3 linked regions of the Homo sapiens genome follow. The protein of the gene in region 1 interacts with the protein of each later gene in a pairwise test. Each region holds a gene or a part of one and is shown on either strand. Other genes may lie near its edges.

Region 1 (2,938 bases):
TTTGCTACAAAATAAGAAGCAGCAGTGTTACAGCCTGAGGTCCATTGGCCTCTCAAAAGGGAAGAGGTTGGCAGTATCAATTAGAGGCTCATAGACTATATTAGGGACAATCTCAGGGAAGTATTTTGCATGTGATGGAAGAATGACCCAAGGTCTTTGGATTGCTAATAATAATACTGTTCTGTGTCAAGCCTGCTTGGCCACAGACCAACTCTGGTATCTTATTTTCAGGTGAATTTTACCGGGAAGGCCGAGATGGGAGGACCGTTTTCCTATGTGTAGTAAGGACACTGTTCTCTCTGTGTGTGCTCTCTACTGGAGGAAAGGGATTCAAAGTCATACTCCATTGATTGGGGCCTGGTCCTGCCTTAGATCTCAGCTTTTGACTTATAGGTTCCCTGGCTTTGGATGTCTTGAGATTTATTTGAAGAATGTATTATTATTATGTGTGTATTTGAAGAATGTATTATTTGATATGTGACAGAAGTGCTGGAATTTCTAAAAGAGAACATTAAGCCACTAAAAACGTTACCAAGCTCCAGCACTTATGTGATGGGTTTGAAAAAACAGAAAGTGGTATGACGCTGTGGGAGGATGAAAATGACAGTGGCAGGGACTGAGAGCTGACAAGCCTTGGCAGCACTTAGGTCGGAAGGGGGAGGGGGGCACCCCAAACAGGACAGTGTAACTCTGCACTCTTCTACTGAGGCTTTAAAAAAAAAAAAACTGACTATTTCCATATTTGCTGTTTGGTAGCTTCTTCTGCACGGTACCTGAGATCCTGGTGCACAACATAGTGATCTTCATGCGGTGCGTCTCTCTTCCCTATCCCGATGGCCTGTCCGGCCATGTGAGCCTACCACCTTTGCTCAGGAGGCCCCTGTGTGACCACAGGGCAGAGGCACCTAGCCCGAGGGGACACCCTGTGCCTCACAGGCACAGATACAGTAGACCCTTGGTGTTCTCTAAACACAGTGTCCACATGCCCTTCACAAATCACCAGTCACCCTGAGCAGTCAAACATTTTCTCCATAAAATGGGTCTAGTTTAACTAAACACTTGATCCCCTCAGAATCCTAATGAGACAGTCATGAACAGAAAAGCTTTCTCAAGATGTTAAGTACTGGGCATTTGACCAGACTTCCTCTCTAGCCACACAAATTACCACATGTCATGGACCTTTAGGGTTGTTTTCTGGAAGCATGGCTGTTAAATTTGCAAGTGACAAGACTCTGCTGCAGACATGAAATATGAGGGGTTAGAGCAGAGTTTCTCAGCCTTGGCACTACGAACATTTTGGGCCAGACCTTTGTTGTAGGGGGCTGTTCTGTGCATTATAGGATGTTTAACAGTATTCCTGGCATCTGCCCACTAGATCCCAGTAGTAAACCCTCCATCCCTTAGTTGTGACAACCCAGAATGTCTTCAGGCATTGCCAGAAGTCTCCTGTGGGGTAAAATCATTCTCGATTGAGAAGCCTTGTTTGGAAGGCCACCTCCTGGCACAGTATCTCTGTGAAAGTGGAAAGATCTTCTGGCCTCCTGGTTACATAACCATGAGGATATGTGCCTGGGGCCCGTGGGTATTGTTCTCTGAACTTGCAAAAAATTTCCTGGGACATTTTTCTGGCTTATTTCATCCCCCAAACATAATTAATTCTTCTTGGTTTTCTTTTCCCTAGAACTTCAGTGAAGATTTCATACATTGGCCTCATGACCCAGAGCTCCTTGGAGACACATCACTATGTGGATTGTGGAGGAAATTCCACAGCTATTTAACAACTGCTATTGGTTCTTCCACACAGCGCCTGTAGAAGAGAGCACAGCATATGTTCCCAAGGCCTGAGTTCTGGACCTACCCCCACGTGGTGTAAGCAGAGGAGGAATTGGTTCACTTAACTCCCAGCAAACATCCTCCTGCCACTTAGGAGGAAACACCTCCCTATGGTACCATTTATGTTTCTCAGAACCAGCAGAATCAGTGCCTAGCCTGTGCCCAGCAAATAGTTGGCACTCAATAAAGATTTGCAGAATTTAATACAGATCTTTTCAGCTGTTCTTAGGGCATTATAAATGGAAATCATAACGTGGTTCTAGGTTATCAAACCATGGAGTGATGTGGAGCTAGGATTGTGAGTGACCTGCAGGCCATTATCAGTGCCTCATCTGTGCAGAAGTGGCAGCAGAGAGGGACCATCCAAATACCTAAGAGAAAACAGACCTAGTCAGGATATGAATTTGTTTCAGCTGTTCCCAAAGGCCTGGGAGCTTTTTGAAAAGAAAGAAAAAAGTGTGTTGGCTTTTTTTTTTTTTAGAAAGTTAGAATTGTTTTTACCAAGAGTCTATGTGGGGCTTGATTCACCCTTCATCCATTGGCTGGAACATGGATTGGGGATTTGATAGAAAAATAAACCCTGCTTTTGATTCATCTGTGTCTCCTCTGATTGCCTGGGTGTTTTGTAGGGATCTCTGGGGGAACCGTAGAATAGTTCCCTTCCAAGTGGGTCAGGATGGAATAGGAGGAAAGAGACTGCACCCTGATTGTACTCCCGTTCCCATGAGTTCCTGTCACAGCAAGCAGCCTCATTTTCTTCCATCTGCCTCTTGCGGCAGGGGGCTACCCTGTTCCCTTCCAGGACAGAGCACTCAGTGCCCCATGGAGGTTGGAATTCAGTCTTGAATAAGACATCCTGGTTTGAGGTTGTAAGTTTCTTGGGTCATCTCCACCTGCTCTGCCACCAGAGGTTAGGCTACAGCCCCAGGATGGCAGAGAATCTAGTTAAGAAGCTTGAGTAGTCAGGTGTTAGAAGTCAGCTCTTCCCATAGCACTGGGACCTCAGGAAACCCTAACAACAACAGGTGGTGGCTGGGGTTGTATATTAGTTTTTGTCTCCATTCCCATAGCTTGGTTTTCAATATTTGCTTAATGATCTGTATAG
Region 2 (3,755 bases), on another chromosome or scaffold:
CATTTACAAACCCTTCAGCTAGACACAGAGTGCTGACTGGTGCATTTACAAGCCTTTAGCTAGACACACAATGTTGATTGGTGCATTTACAATCCTTTAGCTAGACACGAAAGTTCTCCAAGTCCCTAATCGACTCAGAAGCCCAGACGGCTTCACCTCTCATAACCTCTGCCTCCTGGGTTCAAGTGATTCTCCTGCCTCAGCCTACCCAGTAGCTGGGATTACAGGCGCCCACCACCATGCCCAGCTAACTTTTCTACTTTTAGTAGAGACGGGGTTTCACTATGTTGGCCAGGCTGGTCTTGAACTCCTAACCTCAGGTGATTCACCTGTCTTAGCCTCCCAAAGTACTGGGATTACAAGCGTGAGCCACGGCGCCCGGCCAAGCATCCTCTTTCTAAGTCACTCACCCATGAGTATGAATTGTTTGCCCAGATTGCTTCGCTCCATTGTAGCTGATTTCAACCCAGTTGTAAGCCTGGAGCACCTGGAGAAATCAGACCCAGGTGGGATCTCAAAGGTGGAGAGGGTGGGAAAGGAGCAAAAGAAAGAGAAGCGGTGCAGAAAGGGAGGGACACAGATTCCAAAGACATACCTGGCCTGTCTGAAGTTTGCCTCCTCCAGGAAGGGAAGGCAGCATTCTCCCGGTGCTGTCTCCCTCCTCCCCCGTGTACTGTGCACATCTCCTTCCCAGACTCAGCCCAGTTGCACCAAAAGCAAGCCACAAGGCCCATAGGCTAGTCAGACGCCCAACAACCCCACACAATGACACTTATGTGGGGAATTGTGTCCTGAGTCCCAAACGACTGACCCCCCCAATGTGCTGTGAATAAGCAGTGACCACAACCAGTACCACCTATGACTGAGTCGGGAGGCTGCTCTCTAAGAACCCCAGCTGCATGCCCTCTGGGACAAATCAGGCCACCTGGGGCTCCTTCACATCTCTCCAATGCTGTGTTAAACGCACTTTTAACCAACTTTGTCAAAATGCTCAGCTGGTAAAGTTTTAACGTAGGCCCTTGTCAATGCTTCAGAAATAAGCCTCTGGCGGCGCGACAGAGCAAAACTCCCTCAGGAAAGAAAGGAAAGAAATGGAGAAAGGGAGAAAGGGAGAAAGAGAGGAAAAGAAAGAAAGAAAGAAAGAAAGAGAGAGAGAGAGAGAAAGAGAGAAAGAGAAAGAAAGAAAAGAAAGAAAGAAAAAGAAAGAAAGGGAAAGAAAGAAGGAAAGGAAGGAAAGAAAAGAAAGGAAAGAAAGGAAAAGAAAACAAATAAGCCTCCAGGTCATTGCTTAGAAAGAAAAAGAAAAAAGAAAGAAAGAAAAGAAAGAAAAAGAAAAGAAAAGAAAATAGCCTCCCGGTCATTGCTCCTCTCTCTCTCTGCGGGTCCACCCCCATGGCACCCTCCCCCCTCCCCATGGTGCAAGGTTACAATGGAAAGTGCCTCAGCTGGAAAGGTCTCAGAATGTGGCTCAGGGCAGCCACAATCTTATCAGGAGCTTCTCTGTTTGGGATCAGGGGAACCGGTGACTTTCAGAGGCCGATAAGGCGGGACCCAACTTGTATATAAGGGGCAGCTCATGCTGCTGCTCTGCACCTTCCTCCCATCTTGCCTTCTCCCTCGAGTTGGGACCCGGGAAGAACCATGAAGTGGCTGCTGCTGCTGGGTCTGGTGGCGCTCTCTGAGTGCATCATGTACAAGTGAGTCCGGGTGGTGTGGGTGTGAAGACGCTGCCTCCCACATCACCTTTCTTTCCTCCCGTGTCTTCCTTCTTCCCTTTTTTTTCTCTCTCTCTTCAGCTGTCTCCATCCCCCTTTTCCGCCTCTCTCTCTGCCTTTTTGGGAGGCAGCCCTGCAGACATGGTTAAAACTCGGGCCCAGCCTGACTGTGGTTCCCAGCTCCAGCCCTAGTCAGCTTAACTTCTTTGCATTATGGGGCAGAAGTGGGAGCTTCTCCCTTCCTTCCATCTTCCTCTCTTAGATCAGCTGGTTAAGAGTCCAGCCTGGGTTTGGCTCCCAGCTCCAGCACTAGTCAACTTAACTTCTTTGCATTGTTGGGCAGAAGAGGGGGCGTCTCCTTTCCTTCCTTCTTCCTCTCTTAGACCAGCTTCCCTTCCCTTCTGGGGCTGCCACAGCACCCGGTCAGCAGAATCCTTGCCTAATTCCTCTTCCTTCTCCAAACCACAGGGTCCCCCTCATCAGAAAGAAGTCCTTGAGGCGCACCCTGTCCGAGCGTGGCCTGCTGAAGGACTTCCTGAAGAAGCACAACCTCAACCCAGCCAGAAAGTACTTCCCCCAGTGGGAGGCTCCCACCCTGGTAGATGAACAGCCCCTGGAGAACTACCTGGATGTGAGTGTGCGGGCAAGTGGTGGGGCCAGCTCTGAGGACTTGGCCCGCAGGAAAGAGGGTGTCCCAGGGGTCTTGGAGGACGGGCCTGGGCTCTGTGGCTCCAGGCAGTGACCCAGAGTCTGCCCCCTAGATGTCAGTGGCCCAGGGCAGGCAGGAAAGCTCACAGTCAGAGTTCATTCATTCATTCGTTCACTCGTTCATGCAATGTTAATTTCTCTGAGCGCCTCATTCTATTTCAGGGCCTGTGCTGGGCTCAGGGGGAGACAGCAGTGAGCAAACTCATAGCCTAGGAGACAAACACAGTCATCAAGGGGTCTCGCAAACCAATGAAAAGAACAGGCAGCAGGAGGACTACAGAGTGACGGTGTCACACTGCGAGAGTCTGCCACTTGGGCAGGGAGCCTCCCTGGAGCCACGCAGGAAGAGCAGGAGTTTCCAAGAGAACAAGACAGAACTCCGCATAGCCTGATCCCTTGTGCCAAACCCTGTAGCAGGCGGGAGCACAGTGCCTTTGAAGGGGAGCCGAGAGGGAGGGAAGAAGGGTGCTGCAGACTGCGGTCCGAGGAACTGAGGGGTGGACGCAGAGAGGCTCCATCCTAACTGCCTCTGATTTATCTTAAACAGGGGGATGACAAGATCAGATCTGAGTTTCAGAAAGATCACCCTGACTTTGTTATTTGAGACCCGATAGCAAACACCCTGCCCTCCTGCAGATATTGTATGTCCCCTCTGTGACTGGCACAGGGCACAAAGCAGTGATGCCTGTGGTTCAGAGACTGGCCTCTGCCATCCAGCAGACCTGGTGCAAATATGGGTCCTAGTGCCTCTAAGCCACAGGACCTTGGCCAAGTCATTTAAATACTCTGAGCCTGTGTCTTGGTCTGGAAAACAGAACCACTAATATCTACCGTCAGAGGATGTTGCCAGGAATTAACACGATCATGTTTTCTGGAGTGCTTAGCATGGGGTCTGCCAGGCCCTTGGTAAGAGGCTTAATTAGCGCATTTATTTAGTTCACAAATATTTAACAAATATTGGCACCTCTCTATGTGCCAGAGGCTATGCAAGTTGCCAAAATGATGGTGAATAATCAAAGTTCCTGGAGCTTATACTCTAAAGGGGATAACAAATAAACAACCATGTAAGATAATTTCAGGTAATGATAAGGGCCTTGGCAAATTAATTAATGGGAGCATGGGGAACAAGAAGATTGAGAGGGGGCAAATTTAGATAAAGTGGTCACGGAAGGCCTGTTGGCAGAGGGGACATTTGACTAGAGAGCTGAATGATTGATTTTTGATAAAAGGATCAGCCAAGGAAAGATCTAGAATAAACATTTTCCTAGCACAAGGAATAGCCAGTGCAAAGGCCCTAGGGCAGGAGTGACTGGTCATCGCCAAAGAACAGCA
Region 3 (3,655 bases), on another chromosome or scaffold:
GTATTGCAAAGGAATTTCAGAAAACCAGAGAGAGATGAGGATAAATAAAGTCTCAGATGTGGAAAAGCTTGGGGTGCTCAAAGAATAGGAAATAGTCAAGTGTACCTGGACGATACCATTTTTGCTTTTAGACATGCTGAGAATTTTTGACATTTAAAAAATGTTAAAGAGGGAAAATAAGCTGCTTAAGTATACTACATTTTGCATTTGAGTTAGTCTTATATTTATTTACATACTTATCATAAAACATATTCTTGTCTCTAGTTCATGACTTAATTTTAAATAGGAAATAAAATACCTTGAGAAGAGATTCTGCATGTCATTATGTAACTATGGTACTTAGTTTTGCCAGTCAAAACCACACATTGCCACGTGAAGGCCAGTAGTTTATTGAGTACTCAGGGAACAAAATTAGGTGGATTTTTTTCTGTTTTTTGTTTTTTGGGGTTTTGGATATTATACAGAGAGTGTAAAATTGCAATTTTTTTCTTCAGGAGACTCAGACTTGACCCTAAAATATGCATATAAACTTGAAGGCTCAAATAATGTTTTTTCCTAACCTGGAGGAAGAATTGTGAGAATAATGCTTTGCATAGAATCCTCTTCACCTTCTTTGCATGTTTCTTTTGGATCAGGCATAAAATAGGGGCCTGGTTTTGTTAGAGTGGGGGAAATAGTTGATGATATAATCACCCATTCCCTCTTAGTTGCAAATGGTATTGAAATTACAGAAAGTCATCTGACCACTAGTTGAGGTCACTTCTTTTCCCATTCCTGCCATTCCCCCATGTCTGGTATAACATTTGGCAAAATTGGTAACTGCTCTTGAGGGTTTTCATTTGTTTCTGTGTGTTCCTCTGAAATGTCATGTTTCTGGGGGAAGCAAGAACAACAGTACAATTTTCCACATTGAATCAGATGTTCATGTGATCCAAGCGTGCTTGGAAAAATCTTACTGCTTAGGATTCTATACAACATAGCTCTCTTGTGCAGTCTGTAGTTAGACAGTTAAAGGGCCCATGCCTCACCTGCAGGGTAGCCCTTCTGAGTGCGGTGGAAGCAGAGCTTTCTTGGAAAGTGAGACACCACTTGATCAGATCCATTGTGGAATTGAACAAGATGTAAGACAGAAGCATGGAATTCTGAAAAGTCAGACAATGCATTAGTGCACTCACATTGTCTTATATTTAGGTCTGTCAGGTTGTGTTATAATTTTAAAAATTAATTTCAAAAGCGATACATACTTATTATAGAAAATTTGTGCAAATACAGGAAACAATAGAAATACAGGGAAGAAAATATAGTCCATCTTAATTCTCCCTAATTTTCCTTGCATCTTAGCATTTTAGTGCTTCAGGATGGTATTTATTTTGGAACTTTAGTACATACAGGAACATAGAGAGACTACAGTATATATGTATATGTGTGTTCATACGTATGTAGTCAGATATCAGAAAAAATCATATTCTTTAAAACTTATTTTAAAATTACGGATATCACTTAGAGATACTGATGTTAGTATTTTGATATTTGACTTTTCAGTCATATATATACTTCTGTTAAAAAAACAAAAAATTCAATATGAACATATGGTTTTTATAAATTCTTCATCCACATACACTAAAATTTATTCCTTTTTTTTTTTTTCTCTTGAAATGGAGTCTCACTCTGTCGCCCAGGTTAGAGTGCACTGGCGTGATCTCGGCTCACTGCAACCTCCATCTCCTAGGTTCAAGTGACTCTCCCGCCTCAGCCTCCCGAGTAGCTGGGATTACAGGTGCATGCCGCCACTCCTGGCTAATTTTTTTGTATTTTTAGTAGAGACGGGGTTTCGCCATGTTGCCCAGGTTGGGCTCGAACTCCTGGGCTCAAGCGATCCACCTGCCTTGGCCTCCCGAAGTATTGGGATTACAGGCATGAGCCACCGCGCGCGGCCAATTTATTCTTTTTAGTATACAATACTGTAAGTTTTGACAGATGCATAGTTTTGATAGATGCACAGTTTTGATAGATGCACAATTTTCCAGAGTGGATGTGCCATGTTGCATTACCACCAGCAATGTGTGAGAGCTCCACAGATGGGAACTCATATTGTATCTTCAGAGTGTGGCGTTGTCAATTTTTCTTTTATTTCAGCCATTCTAATAGGTGTGTAGCACTATCTCATTGTGGTTTTGAGTTCCCCTCATGACTGAAGTTGTTAATTATCTTTTCCTGTGCCTTTTAATAATATATTCATGTTCTTTGTGAAGTTTGCCCATTTAAAAAATACTGGGTTGTTTTATTATTATTAAGCTTTGAGAGGTTTTATGTTTGCCAAATGAAAGCTCTTTGGCAAATATGTGATTTGCAAATGTTTTCTTCCTGTCTGTAGTTTATTTTATCAATAGTGTCTTAAACAGAGCAAAAGTTCATTTTGATGATACAAAATTTACCATTTTTCTTCTTTTTATGGAACCTCCTAGAAGTTTTAAAGTTTTAGGTTTTACATTTTTATCTATAATCCTTTTTTTCTGGTATATGTTGTGCAATTTTCCCTGCACCGTGTCTTGAAAAGATTGTCATTTTGCCATTGAATTACGTTTGCACCTTTGTCAAAAATCAATTGACTACATTTGTGTGTCTGTTTCTGGATTCTGTTCTGCTCCACTGATGTGTGTGTCCCTTCACAGGTACCACACATTGTTGATTGCAGCTTTATAGTAAATCTTCGAAGCAGGTAGTGAGAATCATCTAACTTTGTTCTTTTTCAAAATTTGTTTATGCTATTCTAATTACTTTTCCTTTTTGTTTAAATTTAGAATAATCTTGTTAATATCTACAGATAATTGTACTTGGATTTTTTAGTAGAATTTAATTGAATCTATAAAACGATTTGGGGAAAGTTGGACATCTTAACAATATTTACTTTTCCAACCCATGAACATGACATATCTCTTCATTTATTTAGATTTTTAAATTTCTTTCATTGATGTTTTGTAGTTTTCAGCATATAGTTTGTGCGTGTATTTTGTTAGGTTTATACCTATTTTATTTTTGATTAGTGCTATTGTGAATGGTATTTTTAATTTTTTTTTAGAAATTTTTATTTTCTTAGTCCATTTTGTGTTGCTATCACAGAATACCACAGACTGGGTAATTTATAAAGAAAAGAAACTTATGTCTTACAGTTCTGGAGGCTCAAAAGTACAAAAGCATGGTGCTGGCATCTGGTGAGAGCCTTCTTGATGCACCATAGCATGGTGGAAGGCATCACAGGACAAGAGAGGCATAAGAGAAAGAGCCAAACTAGCTTTTATGACAGACCCACTCTTGTGATAACTAACTCTCCTGTGATAATCTGTTAACACATTAATCCATTAATGGCAGAATCCTCATGACTCAATCACCTCTTAAAAGGCCTTACTTCTTAATACTGTTAGATTGGGGATTAAGCTTCCACATGAATTTTAGAGACAAAAACATTCAACGGCAGTGACCCTTTTATATTTAATTGACATTTTAATTGAGGTAATTGTAGATTCACTTCAGTTGTAAGAAATACAGAGAGATACTGTGTAGGCTTCACCCACTTTCTCCCAGTGGTTACACCTTGCAAAACTGTATTATAATATCACAACCAAGATATTGATATTAAAACAGTAAAGTTATAGAA

The links.
Region 2: the proteins of TMEM106C (region 1) and PGA4 interact in binary tests that used the Homo sapiens proteins (3 or more experiments, as listed by UniProt).
Region 3: the proteins of TMEM106C (region 1) and AIG1 interact in binary tests that used the Homo sapiens proteins (3 or more experiments, as listed by UniProt).

The regions. Positions count from the first base shown.
Region 1 is NC_000012.12:47,966,452-47,969,389, forward strand, and holds the end of TMEM106C (transmembrane protein 106C), read left to right. Parts: intron 1-231; coding exon 232-281; intron 282-756; coding exon 757-810; intron 811-1,681; coding exon 1,682-1,778; 3' UTR 1,779-2,427; downstream 2,428-2,938.
Region 2 is NC_000011.10:61,220,760-61,224,514, forward strand, and holds the start of PGA4 (pepsin A-4 preproprotein), read left to right. Parts: upstream 1-1,587; 5' UTR 1,588-1,641; coding exon 1,642-1,697; intron 1,698-2,183; coding exon 2,184-2,346; intron 2,347-3,755. UniProt on the Homo sapiens protein: Shows particularly broad specificity; although bonds involving phenylalanine and leucine are preferred, many others are also cleaved to some extent.
Region 3 is NC_000006.12:143,067,381-143,071,035, forward strand, and holds part of AIG1 (androgen-induced gene 1 protein), read left to right. Parts: intron 1-3,655. UniProt on the Homo sapiens protein: Hydrolyzes bioactive fatty-acid esters of hydroxy-fatty acids (FAHFAs), but not other major classes of lipids. Show a preference for FAHFAs with branching distal from the carboxylate head group of the lipids.